2 separate regions of the Homo sapiens genome follow, and region 2 is linked to region 1. Evidence: fine-mapped expression QTL. A gene starts in region 1. The other region holds a variant in brackets. All regions are shown on one strand. Distances are between the middles of the regions. Region 1 holds the start of PHF10 (PHD finger protein 10). Region 2 has its middle 35 kb from the start of LINC00242.

Evidence for each region. PIP is the estimated chance that this variant, and not a neighbour inherited with it, causes the effect.
Region 2: its variant is fine-mapped to the expression of PHF10 in whole blood (INTERVAL, PIP 0.96).

Annotation. Positions count from the first base shown.
Region 1 is chr6:169,722,989-169,725,892 of GRCh38, reverse strand. PHF10 (PHD finger protein 10) reads left to right here and starts at 1,393. Exons shown (of 12, transcript NM_018288.4): 1 at 1,393-2,048. The coding sequence starts at 1,962. It also overlaps a transcript of DYNLT2 not described here. RefSeq lists an enhancer at 728-1,270 and silencers at 1,202-1,501, 1,572-1,811, 1,912-2,291.
Region 2 is chr6:169,832,697-169,835,600 of GRCh38, reverse strand. No RefSeq gene overlaps it. Among named protein-coding and RNA genes, the nearest start is that of LINC00242, 35 kb to the right of the region's middle. The variant C/T (reference allele first, on the strand shown) is at 1,570.

The sequences.
Region 1 (2,904 bases):
ACAGGCAGTTGCTGCGCAAATGTCCTTGAAGCATTTTTTTGTGTAGTTTTGTGGCCTTTGTGCAAGGTTGTGGTTTTGGCAGTCTTTTGTGCTAATTCTTTATATCAGGCAATTATTAGTGAGAACTTTCCCATCACGGCTTTCCCTGACTCCATTCTCTGACAGCTTTCACAATCTAGAGACAGAATCCCGGAGGGAGAGGAGTACCAAATAGCTTAAGAGTTTTTTTTTGTTTTTGTTTTTTTTCTTAAAAAAAAAACCGCTAAACTCTACCCTGATCAGTGAAAAGAATTTAGCTGAAAGATGCAGTTTCTTCTTGGCAGATTCAGACAAGAAGTGCGGCGGAAGCTTACACCTGCACGTGGTGGGACAGAGGCAAGAACGGATGGTCTGGCTGAGGCTGAGAGAACCAAGCTGGATTAGGATCGGCTTGAGGGCCCGGCGTCGTCAGTGGTGACCTCTCTGACCTGAGGCAAGTGAGTCAGGCTGGACTGAGCGTGTTAACGTCGGTGTTTGTCAATGTGACGCGCTAGAATAATCCCTTTATCTTTCCCAACTTTTGTTTGTTGAGTGTAGGCAACTATAATGAATGGAAAGGAAACCGGATTGTACTTTAAATCCGAGAACATTCTCTACTCTCCAGAACAAGTCATCTGCAGGCGCAGGCAGTGGAATCCGTGAGGCCAGCTGTACGGCGGGCCGCCCCGGACCCAGGCTTGGCTCCTCACTTTCCGCTGTTTTTAGTGCGGTCCTACAAGTGCCCTGGTGCAGCCCGAGATCAGTAATAAATGCAGCTGAAATACACCGGCTCCCACGTTCTCGCGGGGGTACCTGCCAGGCCGGCGTCCACGCTCCTCCCCGGCTCCCGGCCGACCGCGTTCTCGGCGGAGGCATCAACCACGCGGGCACGCAAAGCCACGAGGGCCGAATCTCAGCGACTTCTTCCCGCTGTGCCTCCCGCACGCTCCGGGGCGGGCGCCGACAGCCCCCGGGTGCAGCTGCGGATGCTCGGGGAAGCGTGGCCTGGGCAGGTGGCTCCGCTGCTCTCTCGGAGCGCCACCAGCGAGAGGGGCGACCCGAGAACAAAGGCGGGAGAGGAGCGGCGACCGCGAGCGCGTAGAGGCGGAGGCCGCGCAGTCTCCGCGCGACTGCTCCGGGCAGGGCGACCCCCGGCAGAGAGGGGGCGGGGCGGGGACCCCCGGGAGGGGCGGGGAGGGGCGCGGCGGGGGCGCGGAGAGAGGGAGGGAACGAGGGTGACGCGCGGAGGGGCCGGGCCGGGGGCCGCGGGGAGGGGGCGGCTGCGAGCGCGCCAAGTGGCGACGTGCCGGGCCGGGGCGGGCCGGAGGGCGGGCGGGAGGTGGGGCGCGCCGGGGGCTGGGGGGAGCCGCGGCCGAGTACAACGCCGGGCCGTGGGGAGCCAGGCGGCGGCGGGGCTGAGGCGGCCGCGGGGCTGAGGGGAGCGGCGGGGCTGAGGCGAGCGGCGGGGCTGAGGCGAGCGGCGGGGCTGAGGCGGCCGCGGGGCTGAGGCGAGCGAGCGGCGGGGCTGAGGCGAGCGAGTGGCGGGGCTGAAGGGAGTCGCGGCGGCGCTGAGGCCAGCGGCGGAGCTGTGGGGGGCAACGGTGCTGAGGCGGTGGCCGCGGCCGGGCGGGTTGGGCTGACGTGAGAAGCGCCGCCGCCGCTGGGCCTCCTCCATTCCGGCCCGCAGCCCCGCGCCCTCCCAGCCTTTGGCGCCCTCCCGCGCGGGCGGCGCGCTGGCGACGGCCATGGCGGTGGCGGCGGCGCTGGCGGGCCGCGGGGCGCGCGGCGGCAGGGGCCGGCCCCCGGGCGGGCGGGCGGAGGGGGCGGGGCCGGGGCGGCGGGGGGCCCGCGCGGCGGCGGCGGCGGCGGCGGCGGCAGCGGCGGCGGCGGCCGGGACAAGGCGGAGGCGACGGCGGCGGCGGCGGCGCGGGGCGCTCGGGCTGATGGCGGCGGCGGCCGGGCCCGGGGCTGCGCTGTCCCCGCGGCCGTGCGACAGCGACCCAGCCACCCCCGGAGCGCAGTCCCCGAAGGTGAGGAAGCGGCCGGTGCGACCCGACCCTGACCCCGTCCCGGGCCTGGGTGCCGGGGCGTGGGCCCAGTCCCACCGGCGGCCGCCCAGCGTCTCGGGGGCGTGGGCCCAGGCCGGGCGCCGCGCCTGAGACCGGGGGTGGTCGGCGAGGCGGGGCCCCGAGGTGAGCCCGCGGCCTCTAGCGAGCAACAAGTGCGGGCGGGCGGGGGACGCGGCGCGGCTTCCCCGAAGTTGGCAGCCGGCCCTGCTTGACAAGCTTGTCCCCAAAACGCCTCCTCCTAGGCCAGCCGTGGGACGGAACGCGCCCGGGGCCGAGAGAGTTGGCCTCGGAGGGGCCTGCAGAAGCGCGCGTTCGCTCAGCGTTCATTCCGCGCATAGTTTGCCGAAGTGTTTGAACGCTTACTGCAAAAACCGAGTGGCGAACGATATGGAAAATCAACACACTCAGTGAACTTACTGTAATAACTAAGTTAATACGCAAGCGTCCGGATGTTTTCAGCGGAAGTCTGTTAAAACTTTTTACTGCTTGAGGAGGTGAAAAGAAATTGGTGCTTGTGGAGAAAATGGAGATGAGCAGTAGTGTCACGCATCAAAACGTTTTGGTTCTAAAGTTAGGCTAGCAGTTTGTGACAGAAAGTTGGAAGGGAGGAATGATGTTTTAAAAGCCTGGAAGCTTGAAATTGGATTGAAATTAGAAGGCGGTGGGAACTGGAATGCTGCAGAGCCAGCCAGCCTTCGTGCGGTGCGCGGTGTGCCGTGTGCGCGTTGGCAGGGGAAGCCGTCCTGTAGCAGCCTAGCCGGGCTGCGCCTGCTTGGGAGCTTTTCCCGTTGCGCACGTCCACCGTGCTGTGAGACTC
Region 2 (2,904 bases), 110 kb before region 1:
ATAGTTTCTCTTCTTTCCCTGGTTTGGGCATCAAGATAATACTGGTTTCATAAAATAAGTTAGTGCTCCTTCCTCTTCTATTTTCTGAAAGACTGTATACAGTTTCTGATATTTCTTCTTTGAATGTTTAGTAGAATTTTCCAGTGAGATCATCTGGACCTGGAGTTTTATTTTTGGAAGATTTTTAACTAAAAAATCAATTTCTTTGATACAGAACTATTTAGTTTATCTATTTCTTGTTAAGTGTGTTTTAATAGTGTGTGGCTTTTAAGGAACTTGGCCGTTTCATTTAACTTCTCAAATTTAGGTGCGTAGAGTTGTTCATAGTGGTCCATTACTGTCATTTTTATGTCGGTTGTGTCTATAATGCTATCATCTCTTTCAGTCTTAATATTGATCATTTGTTTTCTCTCTTTTCTCTCTGTCATTTACCAGTTTGTTGATATTTTTAAGAACTGTTTTGAATTCATTGATTTTCTTTCTTGTTTTTCTGTTTCCAATTTTCATACAGTTCAAATTTTTTTCTAATTTCTTTGAAATGTAAAATTGACCTATGCATTATCTAAGTGTGTCATTTAGCCTTCAAGTAGCTGGAAGTTTCCCCAATATCTTTTTGTTATTAATTTCTAGCTTAGCTTTATTGTGGTCAAAAGCATGCTTTGCATGATTTCAGATCTTATAAAATTGTTAGAGCTTTCAATGACCCATGGCATGATTTACCCTAGTGAACATTTCACGTGCCCCTGAGAACGTGTGTGCTGCTATTGCTCGGCAGCGTGTTCTGCACATGTCAAGTGAGTCCAGGTGGTTGGTGATGCTGTTCAGTTCTTTATCCTCCTTCTAGAAGATTTTCTGTTCTATTCTAACCATGACTGATAAAGGAGTGTTGAAGACTCCAACTACCAACTACAGTTATTAATCCATCATTTCTCCTCTCGGTCCCACCAGTTTATGTTTCGTATATTTTGAAGTTCTTCTGTCACGTGCATACTCAGGACGGCAACGTCTGCTTGTGGACCTGACCTCTCACCATCATGCAGTGCCCTTCCTCATCAACCACAATCTTCCTGGCTCTGATGTCTATCTCGTCTCTGCAGCCACCGAAGCTTTTTTATTATCATTAATGTTTATGTGGTGCATCTTTTCATCCCCCTACATCATTATATTTAAAGTAGGCTTCCTGGAGACAGCACAGTTTGGTCTTTTTAAAATATCCAATCTGATCATCTGGTTTTTGATTGATATGCTTAAGCTACTTATATTTAATTTAGTTACTGGGGTGTTTGGATTTAAGTATGTCATTTCATGATTTGTTTTCTGATTGTGTCTTACATTTTTTTAATCAATTTCCCCTTTTATATCTCCATTTGGATTCTTAGAATAGTTTTAATATTCCATGTTAAGGGTCTATTGGGGTCTGGTTTATATCTCTTTGCACAGCTGTGTGGGTGTGTGGTTCACGTACGAATTACAATTTACACAATTAACTTTTCACAGTCTACTGAGGATAACATTTTGCTGTTTCATGTGGACTACAGAAGCCACTTCCACAGCGGCCTCCATGCCCTC[C/T]GCTGGCCCCGTGCCCTCCCCTCTGTGTGGACCTCTGCGTTAGCTGAAAAGACCAGTGTTATGGATGCTGCCTTCATTCCTCATACACACCGAGAAAAAGGCCTATTTTATTCACCCAGACATTTATCATTTCTGTCACTTTCCCTTCATTCCTGAAGTTCCAGATTATCCTTACTGTTTCTCTCTGCTTGAAGTTTCTGTGGCGCTTCTTTTATCACAGGTAAATTGGAAATAAATTCTTAGTTTGTCTTCATCTGAGACTGTCTGTATTTCACATTCATTGCTGAAAGACACTTTTGCTGGATATAAGGTTCAAGGTGCGTAGCTCTTTTCCTCCATGCTCTGGGCCTGCTGTGCCACTTTGAGGACTCCAGGGCTCCTCCTGAAGGTGAATCCACGCTCCTTTGGATTTTTGCTCCCTGTGCGTCACGTGCTGATTCCTCTGGCTGACTTTAAGATTTCTTCGTGTTTGGTTTTCAGCTGTTTTATTATGCTGTGTCTGGGTGAGGGACTTCTTTAAGTTTATCATCTTTGGGTGGCAGAATAAATTTCATAAGCAGCCTACTCATACTCTCTCAGATGAGTCATCACAATGTCTAATTGGCTAAAGGAAACTCTAGAGTCTTGAAGGAGTTACTATTTTCCCCCAAAATTAACTTAGAAGATCGAGAGTAATAAACCATTCTTACACATATATAGGTGCACTAGAAATAAAAAGAAAAAAAGAAATGTTTCTCTCTATTATTTTCGAGTAGGAAAAAAATGACAGCCTACATTTTAAGTCTGGGCCTTACATATTATTTCTGTGTACGGTGAAAGTGGAGGAAAAGGCCTTCTGTGTGATAATTACGGACAAGGTGCTTCTGGGGGGCTCACAGAACACAACAGTTAACAAGCGGGTGTCTTCACCAATCGTCATTACAGCTAATGTAGGCTGAGCAGTTCTTACACGGCAGGTGCTACACCCACCTCTTTACATGCACCCTCTCGTGTTATCCTTGGAACAACCTTGTGACCTTAAACATTATTAACCCCAATTTGCAGGTGAAATTGAGGCATAAGTAACTTTCCCAAGAACATACAACCAACAGATCCAAGAAGTCCATGTTCTTAAATCCCGACATGAACTCCTGTCACATCCTGAGAAGGCACTCATGCTGAGCAAGTTAAAGGAATCATCTCACCCTACCCACACATTAGCCAGGGGGGCCATTTCCTGTTTCATTTCCTATCAGTGTGTGTCTGTTCTTATTTGGAAAAGTAAAGGAGGCTTGGCTTAAACCAATCTATCCTTGAAGCCACATTTTAGAAGGGTAAATATTGCTTCTCATGTCA